Homo sapiens: one gene and its partners. The protein of the gene in region 1 purifies or fractionates together with the protein of each later gene. This does not show direct contact. Each region holds a gene or a part of one and is shown in the gene's direction. Other genes may lie near its edges. The genes, in order: ATP11A, TMEM230, RAB11A and OMA1.

Region 1 (4,989 bases):
CTTTGGAGAATCCCCCCTTCCCAGCCGGTTTCTGACCCCTTCATCTTGGGAGGGGGACAGACAGACGTCCAATTTTGATGCTTGACTCCCTTTCTCCAGGCCTTCAGCTGTTTTCTGTTATATAGATCTATATAAGTGTTTGCGTAGCTTGCATTTTTAATTCCCCTTTGCTGTATTATTACGCTTATGGCATCACATTTTCTTTTAATCTAAGCGGTAAATATTCTTTAGTGAACTTTTCCAGCATATACATTATTGGATAACGTCTCGGGAATACGAGTTGTGGGATAATATTATTTCTGTTTTTCTCATTCCACCTGTGTTTTTTGCAGTGTATTCATCTGGCTACCTCACCCATATTTACACACAGAGCCATTCATCTCTATCATTTTAAGTTCATGTCTATGGTATTAAACTAATTTGACTTTTTCCAGAAACAGTCATGATCTGTTTTCTTGTAATTGCGTTATCGTCCACTATGTAGGACTAAATTATATTTCCTTTTGCTACAGAAAAAAGAGTCTGGGATTGAATACTCATATTTCCTCATGGTTTCCTTATGTGACTTACTTTATTAAAAAGGATAGATAAATAGACCCTGTTCCTTCTTGGTGTTCACATAGTCAGAATTCCTGGGACAAAGAAAGCTTTCCAGCTCCTTCTGATGTGTGAGGGTGGCTAAAAGATAAAGAAGTCCTTGGAAAACATTGCTGTAGGCATTTTATTGTGGATTAACCCTGGAGAGATAGCAGAGGCAAATGAGTGAGAGAACAGATGAAGGTTAGGCCAGGGTAGCCAGGTACTCCACACTGTGTGTTACTGGTGGTTTGGGTGTTTGGATGGACCGGAGCCATGCAGAGATACTTTGTATTTGTAAATGGTGCCGTGTTTGTATACCATGAGGAGTGCTTGTGCTTATGGGGTAGTGTATGCTCCCTGGGGTGATGTATGTGCTCTGGGGGGCGTGGGGAAAAGCGTGTGTGCCGTGGGGTAGTGTATGTGCTGTGGGGTAGTGTATGCTCCCTAGGGTGATGTATGTGCTGTCGGGGGCGTGAGGTGGTGTATGCTCTCTGGGGTGATGTATGAGCTGTGGGTACGGGGAGAGGGGACGGGGTGGAGAGTGTGTGTGCCGTGGGGTGGTGTATGTGCTGTGGGAGCCATGGGGTAGCGTGTGTGCCGTGGACTGGCGTATGTGTTGTGGAGTAGTGTATGTGCTATGGGGTAGCATATGAGCCATGGGGTAGTGCATGTGCCATGAGGTAGTTTGACCTCCATGACGTAACACTTTAAAAGCACTTCTAGGCCAGGCGCGGTGGCTCATGCCTGTAATCCCAGCACTTTGGGAGGCCGAGGTGGGTGGATCGCCTGACATCAGGAGTTCAAGACCAACCTGGCCAACATGGTGAAACCCTGTCTCTACTAAAAATACAAAAATTAGCCGGGCATGGTGGCGGGTGCCTGTAATCCCAGCTACTCAGAAGGCTGAGGCAGGAGAATTGCTTGAGCACAGAAGGCGGAGGTTGCAGTGAGCTGAGATCGCACCATTGCACTCCAGCCTGGGCAACAAGAGCGAAACTCGTCTCAAAATAAATAAGAGTATTTTTAACAGCATGGATGGAGAGCGAGTTCCATTTCCTCTTCAGAGCTGTAAGGTGAGCAACACCGATTCAGGTAGTTTAAGTTCCGAGAGGAACCAGGGCAGCCTCAGCGGGTAGCTTAGATACTTTTCTTAGATACTCTCTGGGCAGTGGCCTGAATGCTGAGTGGGAGCCTCCCTGCCCTTCTTAGCCATGTGGCCTTGGGCAAGTGGCTTAATTCCTTCTGCCTCAGTTTTCTCCTCTGAGGGTAAGAGCAGTACTCATTTCATAGCTATTGTGAGGGTTGAATGAGGTAATCTGGGTGGAGAGCCAAGAATGGGGAAGCTCTCAGTCCGTTTGTCATGCCTGGCTGTTAACATAGCTGAGTCCCTGGGTAGGGTTGGCTGGGGAGAGAGCAAACCTATGGGCTGCCAGTGCTGCTGCTCAGCTACCTGTGGGTCCCGGCCTGCTGGCGTCGTGGGTCACAGGAGAGGTAAACCGGGCACCCTGACACTGAGCATGGTGTGGAGCTCAGGTAGGATTCAGAAAGCTTTACACGCTGTGGTAAAACAGCCCTTGATCTCTGTAAGGCTGAGCATCCCGGCGTGGGCAGGATGCTTCCCTCCCTCTTCCCTTCCATGCCTCTATGTAGGGCATTTGATTTTTCTTCAGAGTTCTGTGGGTCAAGAACTCAGTCTTGTTATGGTCCTATAATCTTCTTTCAATGATTCAGCCCAGATATTCCTTGTTAGTTTTGTTCTTTTGCCTGTCAGAGCTTCTGCTTGTTTCTACCTTACCATTCTTGCTTCTTAACATTCTAAGATAGAAAACATTGAAGGATCTGAAGGATTTCCTTGCTGACAGTAGATAATTACTTTCAACACAAACTGTTATAAGTTTTTTTCTAAGAGAAAAATAAACATTTTTGCTTCCCGAGAACTTGAAGCAGTGCTATATTAGAGTGTGTTAAACCTTCTAGAAAGTCCAGCTATTTATATGCATGCATACATATCTGCTTCTTTTATTTATTACCGAATGGTGTATAATGTGAACATCAGTGTTCAACTGTGAGGTTGCCCCTTCTGAAAGACAGACTTATTTATTTAACTCAGTTATGCCAGCCCCTGTTTTAAAATTTTAGAAATGCCACATAATTTTGGAGTTTCTTTTCCTAATCCAGGATTAGACGATCCAGTGGGACCTTGCTGTTGTTCAGCTGCTGGAGTCTACACCACAGGAGCACTAAGTTAAGCTGCTTTAGCTGCCAAGGTCTTCAGGTATTTGAAATAAGTGAATCCTGAGGCATAGAATCCAAGACTAATAATCTGTCTCCAGCAGTGTGGTGGCAAGCCTGCAGTACAGACTCGTAAAGTGTTCATAATGAACAAATGTTTAACCAGGCAGCTCATCACACGAATTCACCAAGCACCCTTCTTGTCTTCAGGGCCTCGTGTCTTCCACCTGGACATTCTAAAGCAGTCTGCCCAGATGCATAATTTCACCTTTGTGTCTACACAAAGGTTGAATCATTTCCATTGCTTTTTGGAACCCTGTTGAATATCTGCTTATTAGGAACAAGCATCTTGAGGTGCTTTTATTTCTTGCCAGGGAGTGAATTTAATAACCTAGAGGGAAAAAAGTTTGTATTATTAGGTTTGGCTATAGTCAGCTAAATTTCTAGGGATAAGAACACTGTCTTCAGTTTACAATTAGTTAAAACTGTGTTGAATCCATGAATAAAAATACATAGTTGCTTAACTACACATGAAATCCTCTATTTACAGATGTATTAAACCCTAAAACCCAAAATACAAATTGTTCTCTGGTGCTTGGAGCATATGTTCAATAGAAACAGGGTTAATAAAAGATTCTCAAGTCCCAGACTTATCAATGTTTTTTTAACCAAGTTAAATGCTGGTAAAAATGCTATTTATTTGCAATAAAAATCAATAGCAAGCAAGTTTTACAGAGTAGAAATTCAAGAAGATCAGATAAGGGATGATTTTCTCTTTCACTTGGATATTATTATCTGAGAAGAACAAAATGGTACATCCCAGAGGTGCCGAGGTTAGGCGTCGGAGTCTGACAGACCCACATTCAAGTTCCGTCTCGGCTGACGGCTGCGTGGCCTTGGCAAGTTGGTTGCCCCCTGTACGCTTGGTGCCCCATCTGCAAGGTGGGGACTATGATGGTGCCCACCTGGTGGGTCTGTGCAGTGACGGGACAGGTCACGGCGCTCGTGCACGCTGGGTGCCCAGTGCACGGGGCGTCTTTGTTGCGCGCATGGACCTGCGGCTGCATCACCGTCCATGCTTCTGGGCTTCTTAAGGAGACCGCCTCTCACCTTGGGCTTTCCGGAACCTTCTCCCCGCACTCCTCTTCACGTGGAGAGTGGGTGACCTTGCCCTGCTCTCCCGGGGAGAGCGGTGGTCACTGGTGGGAACGCCCCTGCCACGCCCAGCAGCCTTTCTGCCTCTGCGCTTGCCTCCTCCGGTTGGAGCGAGTGACCCGTTCTGCCGAAGTCCAGTCCCGTGTGTGCTGCGGCCCCGTCTCTCTCCCTCTCTGAGTGACACTGTCTGCCCTGCTGCTTGCCGTCCCGCTGTTGGCACCGCTTTAGACCCCATATTTCCCAGCGGTCACCGTGCTCATTTTTGGCTTCCAGCTACCGTTTTTCTTAGGTTACCCCGCGTAGCTGGCCCGTCCTTCCTTCTCCTGTCTCTTCTGTGCCTACCGCGGGGGGTTCCCTTACCAAGGTCTCCATCACCCCCAGGCCCACCTCCCTCGGGCCCCTCTCTGCCCTTGCCCTCCACCTCAGCGACTCCGTGGGGCTTTTGTGATCCCAGCTGCAGTTAGCGAGCGCCCCTGTGTGCTCAGAGACACGCCAGTGAGCCGGGAAGGACAGAGACCCAAGTCCCATCCCTCTGGGGCCCCCTTGGAATGGGGGAGGCGAACAGGAAACCACCACAGTGAGTGTTGGGGTGCCCCGCAGGCGACGGTGCTGAGAAAAAGAGAGTGGGGTTGGGGGCAGTGCGTGCGCAGGCTGGCGGGTGGGCGAGGCGGGTGGAGGATGCGTGGGGCGCAGTGCTTGCGCGCAGTGGGTGGCGGGGTGGACGAGGTGAGGGCCTGGCCAGGTGGGTGCCTGCGTGTCCAGCCTGAGGGGCGGCCCACGCAGCAGCCTCTGGGAGCCCTGGGGCCTTCCGTGGGCTGCTTCCTGTGGCGTCCTGCGGGCTGGCCGCCCCTCGGTGGGCTCCGGTGCTGGCCTCTGCCTTCCCCAGGGCCACGGTGGGCTCCTAGTGGCCTTTCTTCCCTCTCCATCAACATCCTTGTCCCAGGAAGAGGCGTCCACTGCCTGCTACACGCCACCCAGCCGTGTTCATTTCCGTGTTCCAGTGTCACCCGTGTGCCTAGAACG
Region 2 (4,989 bases), on another chromosome or scaffold:
CACTGTCTCTTAAACTAGTGACATAATAGCCATGATTTCATTACTGCTGTCTGCTTTGAATATTTTGAACAAGAAGCCAGGTTGTTATTCCATTTTTTTCTTTCTTTCTTTAAAATTTTTTGTAAGATATTATACCATATTCCGTTTCTTAAGGTTGGTACAGAAGTAATTAGGAAAATGAAATCACTACTTTCAGTGCTTGGGATGGGACAGAGAGGTGGGCGCTTCTGGAGGCACTAGTATAGCCAGGCCTGTATCCAAATTTACAAGGGGCCCGGCACAGTGGCCTGTAATCCCAGCACTTTGGAAGGCTGAGTTGGGCAGAACACTTGAGGTCAGAAGTTCGAGACCAGCCTGGCCAACGTGGTAAAACCCCATCTCTACTAAAAATGCAAAAATTAGCCAGGCGTGGTGGCACACGCCTGTAATCCCAGCTACTCAGGAGGCTGAGGCAGGAGGATTGCTTGAACCCAGGAGGCAGAGGCAGCAGTGAATGGAGATTGCGCCACTGCACTCCATCCTGGACAGCAAAGTGAGACTATCGCAAAGAAAAAAAAAAAAACTGAGTTCAAGACCAGCCCGGCCACCATGGTGAAAACCAGTTCGTTACTTAAAAAATACAAAAATTAACTAGGCATGGTGGTGCATGGCTATAATCCCAACTACTCGGGAGGCTGAGGCAGGAGAATCGTTTGAACCTGGGAGGCGGTGGTTGTAGTGAGCTGAGATCAACCCACTGCACTCTAGCCTGTGTGACAAAGCAAGACACCGTCTCCAAAAAATACAAACAAACAACAACAACAAAAAAACCCCACAAATTTACGGCAAGAAACTTTACAGATCTTTTGCATTAAAAGGTTGATCTCTATCAAGGGGAAATAGGCAAAATGCTGATGTGAGTGTATTCCATTCTCTGCCCTCTTCTCCCTCCCTGTCAAACAAGAGAATCATTTGAGTATATGCTCCTCTTGCTTTTTCTTAAGAGCGGGAGCAGGGGACAGGCAATGCTGTGGTGTCAGGTGGACCTAGATTTAAGTCCCCATTATTCTACCTAGTCTCTATGTGACTTTGGAAAAATTAAAAGTCAGGGAATCTTGGTGGCAAAATAAACTGGAATGTGATTCTTGGTGAGTGTCTTCACTGTCATTCTACAAGGACAGACCAGACTAGATATTTAATACATAGTGAGAATCTTTTCACTGTGTCAGAGGCATATCTGGTTTTCCATATGCATATGCCTCTGACACAATGAAAATTTAGCAGTGAAGTGTAAATTGCCCATTGCTAGTCTGACATGGCAGCCCAGAACTCCAGTGCACAGCATCTAATAATCCTGAACTCATTGGCTATAATGCACCATTGTCATCTACAGACAATAACGGGTTTTTTGTTTTTAAACTGTAGCTGTGTCAGCGTGTTATGATGCCGTCCCGTACCAACCTGGCTACTGGAATCCCCAGTAGTAAAGTGAAATATTCAAGGCTCTCCAGCACAGACGATGGCTACATTGACCTTCAGGTAAATGCAGAAGAGAACTGACAAGACTGACTGGCTGTGTTTCTGTTAAGTTAGCAGGAAGACCTTCCAGATGGAGATTTTGCTAACTGTCCTTGGGGATTAGAAGGAGCAACAAGAAGAAAACTCAGCTCTGAGACCCTTTCAGCCATAATCGCAGAAGAGGGCCGTGGCAGGGTAGTTTCAAACCAATTCCAGTATTGTCCATTTCTAAGAATTTTTAGTTGTAATGCGAGAGCCTTGTAGTTACAGGTTTTATTTACTTTATTCAGAAACTAATCAGATTGTGTTTTGTTAAGTGGAGTTTTTTGTTGTTGTTTCTTTTTTTAAGGAACTTTAAAATTTTTGTTAGGTGGAATTTTTTTTATCACTGTTTATTTACACTTTAGTCAAAGCCCGTTCACCTTTTAAGGGAGAAACTTATTACTAAAGCCAGCAGATTGTGGGAATCTTCCTTCTTTCCTGATGTCATGAGATCCAATTTATTAAAGGTATTCTTTGTGATAAATAGTAAGTAAAACACAGTATTTATTAAGTTTGTATCCTACCCTAACCATTTATAAACTAGTCAATACTACAGCATCTCCTTTTGCACACTTCCCCTTACAATAGAATGTTCTACGTGGAACTAGGGCCAACGAGGAAGTAGCAGGAAACCATCCTTTATAAATAAATAAATTACTCTTTGGACCCACATTTGAAGGAGAGATAAAAATAGATCTGGAAAGATCTGGGAAGCTTCCAGCCACTTAGGTCAGATACAACGATGAGCCAAACCTTGGAAAATTTGTCTCTGAATCTTAACCTTGAATTGAATTTGTTCATAAGGCAGGTTTACTTGCTATGTGGAACAAACAACTAATCATTTGGAATAAGCTGAAATTGCCTTCTTTTCCTTTTTTTTTTTTTTTTTTGGAGACGGAGTTTTAGTCTTGTTTCCCAGGCTGGAGTGCAGTGGCACAACCTCGGCTCACTGCAACCTCTGCCTCCCAGGTTCAAGCGATTCTCCTGCCTCAGCCTCCCAAGTAGCTGGGATTACGGGCATGCGCCACCACGCCCAGCTAATTTTGTATTTTTAGTAGAGACAGTGTTTCTCCATGTTGGTCAGGCTGGTCTTGAACTCCTGACCTCAGGTGATCATCCTGCCTCGGCCTCGCAAAGTGCTGGGATTATAGGCGTGAGCCACCTTGCCCAGCCTCTTGTTTTGTTTTGTTTTGTTTTTAAGATGTAGTCTTGCTCTGTTGCCCAGGCTGGACTGCAGTGGTGCAATCCTGGCTCACTGCAACCTCCCCCTCCTGGTTCAAGTGATTCTTGTACCTCAGCCTCCCTAGTAGCTGGGGGATTACAGGCATGCACCACCATGCCTGGCCAATTTTCGTATTTTTAGTATAGATGGGGTTTCGCCATGTTGGCCAGGCTGGTCTCGAACTCTTAACCTCCAGTGATTCACCCACTTCGGCCTCCCAAAGCGCTGGAATTACAGGCGTGAGTCACCGCGCCCAGCCTTTTTTTTTTTTTTTTGAGACAGGGTCTTGCTCTTTTGCCCAGGCTTGGGTACAGTGGCACAATCAAGACTCACTGTAACCTTGACCTTCTGGGCTCAAGTAGTCTTTTCACCTCAGCCTCCTGAATAGCTGGGACCACAAGCATGTGCCACCACACCCAGCTAATTTTAAAATTTTTTGTAGAGACAGGATCTCTTAAATCCCCATAAGTTAGTACAGCCATCTATGTGCCAGGCAGTTAATAAATATATATCTAACAAATGAATGACTGTAAAGTCATTTCTGTTTTTGTTTTAAAGAAAAGTTTCTTATGATACAATGAATGATTTATGGAATGAGATTCGAACTAGAGTGAATGACATTCCTCTGAGATTCCTTTGAGTAACTGTGAGAGCAATAACTAGAGCTTCATCTCTTGCCAGTCCCTTTTATTTCTCAGAGCTGCACTGGGTGGTAGGACATACTTAAGACACATAAAGTATCTAGTTTGGTTCTTAATTACCCTCCTGTTTTTGCTGTTGTTGTATTTGAAACAGGCTCTGGCTCTGTCACCCAGGCTGGAGTGCAGTGGTGCAATCTCAGCTCGCTGCCTCTTCACCTCCTGGGCTCAAGCCATCCTCCCAGCTTAGCGTCCCAAGTAGCCGGGACTGCAGGCACATGCCACCACGCCCGGCTAATTTTTGTATTTTTTGTAGAGACGAGGTTTCACCATGTTGCTCAGGCTGGTCTCAAACTCCTGAACTCAAGTGATCCGCCTGCCTCAGCCTCCCACATTGCTGGGATTACAGGTGCGAGCTCTCCTCCCTGTTTTAAAGTGTTTGAGACTGGGCTTGATGGCTTATACCTGTAATCCCAGCACTTTGGGAGGCAGAGGTGGAAGGACTCCCTTGAGCCCAGGAGTTGGAGACCACCCTGGGCAACATAGTGAGACCTCGTCTCTACAGAAAAATTTAAAAATTAGCTGGGCATGGTGACGTATACTTGTAGTCCCAGCTACTTGAGAGGATGAGGCAAGAGAATTGCTTGAGCCCAGGAGTTCGAGGCTGCAATGAGCTGTAATTGCACCACTGCACTCCAGCCTGGGTGATAGAGCAAGACTCCGTCTCTAAAATCATAAAAATTAGGCCGGGCGCGGTGGCTCACGCCTGTAATGCCAGCACTTTGGGAGGCCGAGGCGGGCGGATCACCTGAGGTCAGGAGTTCAAGCCCAGCCAGGTCAACAAGGTGAAACCCTGTCTCTACTAAAAATACCAAAAAAATTAGCTGGGTGTAGTGGCGGGCACCTGTAACCCCAGCTGCTCAGGAGGCTGAGACAGGAGAATCACTTGAATCCAGGAGGCAGAGGTTGCAGTGAGCCAAGATCACGCCATTGCTCTCTAGCCTGGGCAACAAGAACGAAACTCCATCTCAAAACAAACAAACAAAAACATAAAAATTACAAATAATTAATTAAATGTTTGAACCCAGGTATTTGCATTAATGTTCTTCGTTGTCTTTTTCATCTCTATTTCTCTTCCAGTTTAAGAAAACCCCTCCTAAGATCCCTTATAAGGCCATCGCACTTGCCACTGTGCTGTTTTTGATTGGCGCCTTTCTCATTATTATAGGCTCCCTCCTGCTGTCAGGCTACATCAGCAAAGGGGTAAGCTGACGGGCATGTGGGAATAAGTTGTGAGATTTTTAAAATGTTAGCCAAGGCTCTAGTGTGCGTGTGTGTGTGTGTGTGTGTGTGTGTGTGTGTGTGTGTGTGTTTGTCCGTCCCAGTGGTCTGTTTTTTTTGAGACAGGGTCTTGCTCTGTCATCCAAGCTAGAGTGCAGTGGCACAACCTTTACCTCCCTGGGCTCAAGCGATCCTCTCACCTCAGCCTCCCGAGTAGCTGGGACTACACGTGTGTGCCACCACACCCAGCTAATTTTATTTTTTATTTACTTATTTTTGTTTGTTTTATTTTGTGTAGAGACAGGGTTT
Region 3 (4,989 bases), on another chromosome or scaffold:
GTTTTGATACCTTCCAATGAGAGTAATAGGTTATAATAGTTTCAGAGAGGTAAACATGAATGCTTAGCAAGAATTGTTTTGAAAGTTTGTGATGACTGTATAGCTTTTTTGCTTTGAGTCATTAAAACACTAATATTTTGCTGCCAAAAAATGAATATAAACATTGTATATTCTGTCTCTTTTTCTGTTATGTTTCTGTGTTTACAAAGGCTGCTGTACGTGAGCTCTATGTGAGTGAAAGGCAGAGGCTCAGGGAGTGTCAGGGACCAACAGGGATGCAGCTGCTTAGGAGCTGTAACTTTTTGGCTTCATAAAGAATTCACGTGTCTCTTGCCCCTGTTCTGGTAGGGACAGCATGCCAGAAGACAACATTGTGCATTGTGGCTAGTGAAAGTCTTGCGGCCGGGCGTGGTGGCTCATGCCTGTAATCCCAGCACTTTGGGAGGCTGAGGTGAGTGGATCATGAGGTCAGGAGATTGAGACCATCTTGGCTAACATGGTGAAACCCCGTCTCTACTAAAAATACAAAAAACCGGGCGCGGTGGCGGGCGCCTGTAGTCCCAGCTACTCGGGAGGCTGAGGCAGGAGAATGGCGTGAACCCGGGAGCAGAGCTTGCAGTGAGCCGAGATAGCGCCACTGCAGTCCGGCCTGGGCGAAAGAGCGAGACTCCGTCCCAAAAAAACAAAACAAAACAAACAAAAAAAGAGAGAAAGTCTTGCCTTTGCACTAATGCTTATGCTATGAATAACTTTCTGTAACAGTTTTTTAAATTTCCCATGCAAGAATAGCTTTATTGTAAATAATATGGCTACAACATACGGAATACTATAGCCAATGTAGTTGATGGAGAGGATAGCAAGAGATGGAAATAACTGGGCACTTGATACATTTTTACCACATTTTAAGTGGTGTCATTCGTCACTAGTGAGTAGTACTTAGATATAACAAGTATTTATTTTAATTAAGGAGCCAATTGACAATTTCTCACTTTTTTTTTTTTTTTTTTTGGGAGCCAGGATCTCACTCTGTGACCCATTCTGGAGTGGAGTGGCACAGTCAAGGCTCACTGCAGCCTCGACCTCCTGGGCTCTAGTGATCTTCCACCTCAGCCTCCTAAGTAGCTGAGACTGCTGGTGTGTGTCACCACGCTCAGCTAATTTTTAGTATTCTTTATATAGAGAGAGCAAAACCTCTCTCCAGTGTTTTGCCATGTTGCCCAGGCTGGTCTTGAACTCCTGGGCTCAAGCAATCCGCCTGCCTTGGCCTGCCAAAGTCCTGGGATTACAGGAGTGAGCCACCATGCCCAGCTCTCTTGCTATTATTTTTAATCTATTAAAGTGTAAATATTAAAGTGTAAGTAGGGTCGGGCATGGTGGCTCATGCCTGTAATCTCAGCATTTTGGGAGATGGAGGCAGGAGAAACTCTTGAGGCCAGGAGTTCAAGACCAGGCTGGGCAACCTAGTGAGACCTGCATCTCTACTTATATAAAGAAGTAAATAAAGTAAGTAAATAAATAAAGTGTAAACAGAATGGTGCCCTTACTGTCCCAGAAGTTGAGGAGGTCTTAAGTTTTAAAAAGTTCTGTTATTTTTCCTTTTGAGGGCTTGAGTATATCCTATTCCTTGTTTTAAAACTTAACAAGACTGAACTTTTGTGTCTCCCCTCAGAAAAGAATGGTTTGTCATTCATTGAAACTTCGGCCCTAGACTCTACAAATGTAGAAGCTGCTTTTCAGACAATTTTAACAGGTAAGACTTGTATTTTCAGATTACACCAGTAGGACTAGAAGTTTTAGGAAGGTAATTTAAACAAACTAATCAGTAACTAAACTATATATCAGCCGAGAGTGACTATCATTTGAGAGCTACTCTAGCAAAAGCTGTTTAGAGTGCAAAATTAACTACAACCCTTGCTCACTGAGCTTCAGTTGTCCTAATTCATCTGATTTATAGTGGGAAAAATACTTTGAAAATAATTCATTCACTTCCATTATTACTTCAGTCCAGGTATTCCATTCTTCATGGTCACAAAGTAATGTTTAAATGTACTTTTATGAGGTAAATATTGAGATCCCAGCTATAGAAAGATATAAATGCCCTTTTTTAAATTTAGTAAAGGCAAAGCTAGGGAAAAAACATTTTTAAAAATTATAGCGACAAAATAAAATTCTCCCATGATACAGAAGAAGGGTATCCCTTGCGTATTCTATATTGTATCATGGGAGATAATTGGTAGATAAAATCAGCCAATGATTGCATATAGAAAAGTTTTAAAAAGTAGTTGGAAAGAGATGGAGTTCATGCTGTTTTGGAATGTGAATGACCAGGTCAGCCTCTGAGATAAGAAGTGTTCACTCATATTTATCCTGAAACTATTAGAATAACCAGATTTATTAGTAAGATTAGTCTTAATCTTCTAATTAGTACTTTGATGGGTTGTTTTTAAATACTTTTAAATTGTATGTTACTTTTAAGAACTCATGATTTAAAATGTGGTCTTAATATATAGTATAGTTTTACGTGGCATTGTTCTAAAAAGTCTATACAGAGATATGATTGAGTTTCCAATTATAATGTAACAAGTTTTGATTTATTGTTTGTATGCAGCCCCTGTATTAGAGATTAACAGATTTTAACTTTAACATGTTATCTTCTTTTACTGTAAAAATGTAAGCGTAAAGTCAAGGAGTTAAGATTTGGAAGCCTGACTTGGGTTCTAGTCCTGGCTCCTCCACTTACTGTTAGTTGTACAATCTTAGGCAAGTTACCTAACCCTTTTAGGCCTTAATTTCTCCATCTATAAAATTCATATATATTTTGAGGAGTTTTGTTATTTCTTTTTTGAGAGAAGGCTTATATTTATAAAATCTTGTGATAGGATTTGACTTGACTTTTGTGACCTAAAGGTTTTTTGTCTCAGTAACCCTTAGCAAAGAATGGTCTGTCACTGCCCTAGACTTCAAAAATGAGTACCTGTAAAGTACCCATTTTGAATACTGTAAATTACTTATCTATCCCTGGTATATAGAGAACAGTTGGCAAATTAGTAGCTGAACGGCAATTAAGGCATGAGAAAATTGGAGATTTATGTACCTATTTTATTATAATTCTTTTCTGTTATCAGAAGAATAGTGCTGGGGTTGGATAAGCAGTCTTTGGAACACAGTAGCTTTCCTTTAGAATGTTCTCTGTCAAAGTTTCACTGCAGATTGTTTTAAGCAAGCAAGATTTGATTAAATATGTAGTATGTCTGCAAGTCCTTGTTTTCTTTATAGCCATTTGTGTACATTTTATTAAGTCAACATGTAGAGTACTAGATTGAGACCCAGGAGTTCTAGGGCATTACATTTTTATCACTTTGCTTCTACTCCCCGTTTAACTAAAGTCACTGAACCTCCCTGCTCCTCAGAGTCATAGTCTTAAAACATGTGAATTAAATTACCTTAAAGATGTGTGAGCATTTTAAGGCCTCAGAAAGTCTCATCTGAAAAAACTTTTTAGACAGTCCTCATTGTTGGAATATTTTTTATGTTCCATCAAATCTCCTCTGCTGTAATTCTGGCCCATTTATTCTGATATTAAGTGAAGATGAGCCCAAGTCTTCCATCTGCAGTTAACTATTTTATGCATCATTTTGTAACATTGAGCTTCTGATCCACTCAAACATGAACTAGTCGGTACTTAAAATTGAGCCCTTTAAGAGCTGGGCATGTTGATGCACGCCTGTAATCCCAGCATTTTGGGAGGCTGAGGCAGGCGGATCGCTTGAGCTCAAACATCCTAACACCTGTAGAACAACACAGATGTCTGCTGCCACATGCAGTGATCTCAAAAGTTCAAGACCAGCCTGGGCAACATGGTAAAACCCTGTCTCTAAAAAAAAAAAAAAAAAAAAAAAACACAAAAAAATTAGCCAGGCATGGTAGTGTGTGCGCCTGTAGTCCCAGCTGAGGTGGGAGGATTGCTTGAGCCTGGGAGGTTTAGGCTGCAATGAGCCGAGATCATGCCACTGCACTCCAGCCTTGTGGGCAGAGTGAGATCCTGTCTCAAAAAGAAAAAAAAAGATGAACATATAGTTGCTTTTCTTAAAATTCACTCTAGATTGAACTTTTGTTACAGCTTAATTGTTGCTTGAAAGCAAAGAAGACTTTAGTTTCACTTGCTACCACTTTTCCTTTCTATATTCACTGTTTCCTCAGCTTCCTGCATAAATCTCACTGTTGGTCTGTAGGATCAGAGATCACTGCATGTGGCAGCAGACATCTGTGTTGTTCTGCAGGTGTTAGGATGTTTGTTCTAAACTTTCTTCCTCCTGTATGCCAGTGGAAGTGTGAATGCATAGAGAAAACAGTGAAGAGGACAGACTCTTTATTGCACTTGATTCTACCTTAAATGTTAACAGTCTTAAGGGAGTATTTACGTTGTGTTTTGATATTGCTGAAAGAAAAAATAGCTTTAAAATTTCTAAAAATTGAGATGGAGCCCAGTCTGGTCTTGAATTCCTGAGCTCAAGCCATCTGCTTGCCTTGGCCTCCCAAAGTGCTGGGATTATAGGCATGAGCCACCATGCCTGGCCAAAAATTTTAAGTTGTAAAATTATATATCAGAAAATTTACATTGTTACTTCAGAGTTAATTGTGTTGTTGGTTTCAGAATAGACCCATGGCATTCTTGACACCCATGAATTTGAAAGTGACTCCATGAGATGATTTTGCTGATGGTATTTTTTTAGAGGTAGTTTACTAGTATGAGAGTGAGACTGGTAGATTGCTCCGCCTCTGAATTTCAGTACAGCTTTGTCTTTTCTCAGGTTCACTAAAGGATGTTTTTAATACATACCTTTTACTTTTTTATTTTAACTTTGCATTTTGACAATTTCAAATTTAAAGAGGTTGAAATAATAGTAAAAAGAATTTGCAAATATCCTTCACCCATATTCCTCAGATGTTAATATTTTACCACATCTGCTTTGTCCTTTTCTTTCTCTT
Region 4 (3,500 bases), on another chromosome or scaffold:
GGAACAATTCTAATGCCCAGTAACGGAGAAATACAAAGTAAATTACATGAGGGCAGGGACCATGACTATTCTGACCAATGTGTACCTAGCACCTTACTCACTGTGGTGTTCTAAATATTTGTTGTATTAAAAAGACTGAATAAGCGAATTTAAGGATAAGAGAAGAGTTTTTACTGAATACACAAAGATCTTAGGGGATGGCATCCTATTCCTCTCTTTGTTGCTTTGCATCTCTCATTGCCACACTCAGCTGTGCCAGTTGTTACCTGCTGGACTCCATACTCTCCCCCTTTACTGATGCCAGTGCAGTGCTTAAACATAGGCACTACACTGATATAGCAGCCATGACAGGTAAACTTCTCACTTGGGAAAGAAAATTAACATCATTGTAAAGGAACTAATGCAAGAGTGACCGTACGTCCCAATTTTGCAGAGACAGTCATGGCTCATGCCTGATGTCTCAGTGCAAATCTTGCTAGCATCTCATTTCATTCTCAAAGGTATCCCAGTTTGGACAGTAGGTCACCGTTTAGCTGAGGATCTGACTTTCTGTTTACTTAAGTGCTGTAAGTGCTATAGTTGGGAAACATTTTCTTGTTGTGTCAATTCAGTTTACTTAAACATTTACTTAACACTCACTAGATATAAGGAAATCTTAAATCTGCTGTGAAATACAAAGAAAAATAAGACAAGACCACTGCCACTGAAGAATTTCACGTTAAGTAATGTTTTTTCAACTCTCCAGCTTACCTTGGTAACTCAGAGCCTAATCAGAGCTAGAAGTGCTCCTAGACCCAAGCTTCTGCCCTGACCCCATTCACTTAGAGAACGTCTATCTGGCTCGCATCTGACTACAAGTCCCTCTCTCCTGTGGGACTCAATGAAATGTTAGCATACAAGAACCTGTGCCCCTACCATACCCCACTCAGGGTATCTGGAATAATGGAATTCCTTGCCCAGATATGTTTGAGCCTGCTTTCAGGGCCCATCTGGACCTCTTCCTTGAACACATTCACACAAGGCCCTTTACAGTGCCAGATAAGCTAGGGCTGGGAGAGGGGGCAGATGGCAGGCTAGTGGCAAGAGCTACACAGTAAGCTCCCTGCAATCTTACATGTTCTGAAATTCAAGAATTCTAGTTTTGTACCTGGACTTCCAGGTAATTTCGAATGTGTATTCTTCAAAGTAGGAGAATAGAACAGATTTTAAGTAGTAGTGTATTAGCTTGACTTACTGCTTTTAGGTGTTTAGAGACATGGTATCTGGGCCTCCATTTTCATTCTTTCCATGGACCCCACAAATATTAGAGGCAGGCTGTTTAGAGTAAAACTTAAAATCCTTAGCATGACCTGTGAGGTCCTACATAATCTGCTCCTGCCCTCCACCCTGCTCCACTCGGCTGTACCTGCTTCTTCACTGTTCCAAAACACCCCAGGCACGCTCCCATCTCCCTTGTACTCGCAGCTCCCTCTTGGAATGATTTTTCCCTAGGTTGCCACATGGTCTCTTTCCTCATGTCCTTCAGGTCTGTCCCCCTCTTGACCCCCAAAGTCATTATCCTATCAGTGAGGCCTTGCCTGGATAGTCTTTCTAAGATTTTACCAGTCCCTCAAACACTGTCTCCTTTACTGCCTTATTTACTTCCCTTAAGACACATCAGTATCAGAAAGCCAGAAGTCGTAAAAAACTGAATTAGCTTTTTCCCCTAAATGTCTTTCTTTTAAAACTCCTAAATATTAAGACCATTTATCCTTAAAAATTATTTTGGCTCTTATATCTTAAAATTATCCATATACCCACTTTGAAGAGTTAAATAGTTCTAAGGCTAGTTACTTAAATCAGCAGCCAGTCCCTCAACCCTGCCATCAGTTTCAGGGGTAACTATTTCCAATTCTATTGGACGATTCTTTTAGTATTTCCCATTGTGTCTAAATAACATGCTTATGTTGCTACATTCTAACTTCAATTTTGGGCCTTAATTATTTTCCACCTTACAGGATGAGACGTAAGCCCTCTCTTTCCAGTGTCACACCCTGTGCATGTGCACACACATGCAGCTCTCCCCTTCTCAGTATGATGAAATTGTACTTTTTGGTTTCATCAAGATTTGGTATTTTAAACTGTAAGCACTAGTCATAGCTGAGCCCCATAGTACACTGTGATTACTTTTCCTTCCTTTGCAATGTTTTATTTCTCCTGGAGTTAAAAATTGTCATGATTTTGATTTGTTTACTTTTCTAAGTATATTAGTCCATTCTCATGCTGCTAATGAAACATACCTGAGACTAGGTAATTTATGAAGGAAAGAGGTTTAATTGACTTACAGTTCCATATGGCTGAGGATGGCCTCACAATCATGGTGGAAGGCGAATGAGGAGAAAAGTCATGTCTTACATGGCGGCAGTCAAGAGAGCATATGCAGGGGGAACTGCCCTTTATAAAACCATCAGATCTCGTGAGACTTAATCACTATCATGAGAACAGCACGGGAAACACCCACCTCCATGATTCAGTTACCTCCCATGACATGTGGGAATTATGGGAACTGCAATTCAAGATGAGATTTGGGTGGAGACATATGCAAACCATATCACTAGGTTATTATCATCAATTTTACCCAAGACTGTATCAGTTATGTATATCTTTTTTCAGTATATTCAGTCATCTATGTTCTGCAGTTTTTCTTGAAAAAAATCTCTCATAGAGCCTTTTTAAATCTGAATGATTCTCCGGTCTGCTAGAGTTTAACTGAAACCATAGATGTATCTCTAAGATTTGTTTACCCTCAAAACAGCATTAGGGCAGTTGTTACAGATTATTAATACTATTGTTGTTGTTTTTAAAATAATACTATTTGACCAAATCATGAAAACAACTGTTCACTGTAGATTTTTCAGTGGTTCTCTTTTATGTGTTATAATCAAGATACCTTTTATTAAAAAAATAACAATACATTCTTTGTTTTACATGGAGCATATTAGGGATTACTGAAACAATCTGAATACATTGATGTATATATATAGTATTTTTTTATTTTATTATTTCTTTATAGGCTCTCAAAATTAGAGAGATGTGTAATTGTCCACCACTGTCTAATCCAGACCCTCGATTACTATTCAAACTCAGCACGAAGCATTTTCTTGAAGAATCAGAGAAAGAAGACCTAAATATCACGAAGAAACAGAAAATGGATACTCTTCCTATTCAAAAACAGGAGCAAATACCATTAACATACATAGTTGAGAAAAGAACGGGCAGTTGAATTAAAATTTATGAGACACAAGATATATGAAGAATGTTGCAGTCCTTATCATTTTATGTTACTTTTTAAAAAATGATGTTTGAAGTGAAAAAAAAAAGGATATTCAGGGTCAAATCATGTACATTACAGATATTATCTAAATTCTTCTAGAATTTATTTTTCATGAAATATTGATGTATTTTAATCTATGTTAAAATATCTTCAATGAGGAAAATGTCACAGAATAAATTTATATTAC

What was found.
Region 2: the proteins of ATP11A (region 1) and TMEM230 purify together in Homo sapiens (affinity purification with mass spectrometry; one large-scale study listed by BioGRID and IntAct). This does not show direct contact.
Region 3: the proteins of ATP11A (region 1) and RAB11A purify together in Homo sapiens (co-immunoprecipitation; one large-scale study listed by IntAct). This does not show direct contact.
Region 4: the proteins of ATP11A (region 1) and OMA1 purify together in Homo sapiens (affinity purification with mass spectrometry; one large-scale study listed by BioGRID and IntAct). This does not show direct contact.

The regions. Positions count from the first base shown.
Region 1 is NC_000013.11:112,692,369-112,697,357, forward strand, and holds part of ATP11A (phospholipid-transporting ATPase IH), read left to right. Parts: intron 1-4,102; exon of another isoform or gene 4,103-4,989. UniProt on the Homo sapiens protein: Catalytic component of a P4-ATPase flippase complex which catalyzes the hydrolysis of ATP coupled to the transport of aminophospholipids, phosphatidylserines (PS) and phosphatidylethanolamines (PE), from the outer to the inner leaflet of the plasma membrane.
Region 2 is NC_000020.11:5,105,861-5,110,849, reverse strand, and holds part of TMEM230 (transmembrane protein 230), read left to right. Parts: intron 1-1,404; coding exon of another isoform or gene 1,405-1,419; coding exon 1,420-1,518; intron 1,519-4,539; coding exon 4,540-4,662; intron 4,663-4,989.
Region 3 is NC_000015.10:65,878,002-65,882,990, forward strand, and holds part of RAB11A (ras-related protein Rab-11A), read left to right. Parts: intron 1-1,669; coding exon 1,670-1,750; intron 1,751-4,989. UniProt on the Homo sapiens protein: The small GTPases Rab are key regulators of intracellular membrane trafficking, from the formation of transport vesicles to their fusion with membranes.
Region 4 is NC_000001.11:58,480,727-58,484,226, reverse strand, and holds part of OMA1 (metalloendopeptidase OMA1, mitochondrial precursor), read left to right. Parts: intron 1-3,052; coding exon 3,053-3,262; 3' UTR 3,263-3,500. UniProt on the Homo sapiens protein: Metalloprotease that is part of the quality control system in the inner membrane of mitochondria. Activated in response to various mitochondrial stress, leading to the proteolytic cleavage of target proteins, such as OPA1, UQCC3 and DELE1.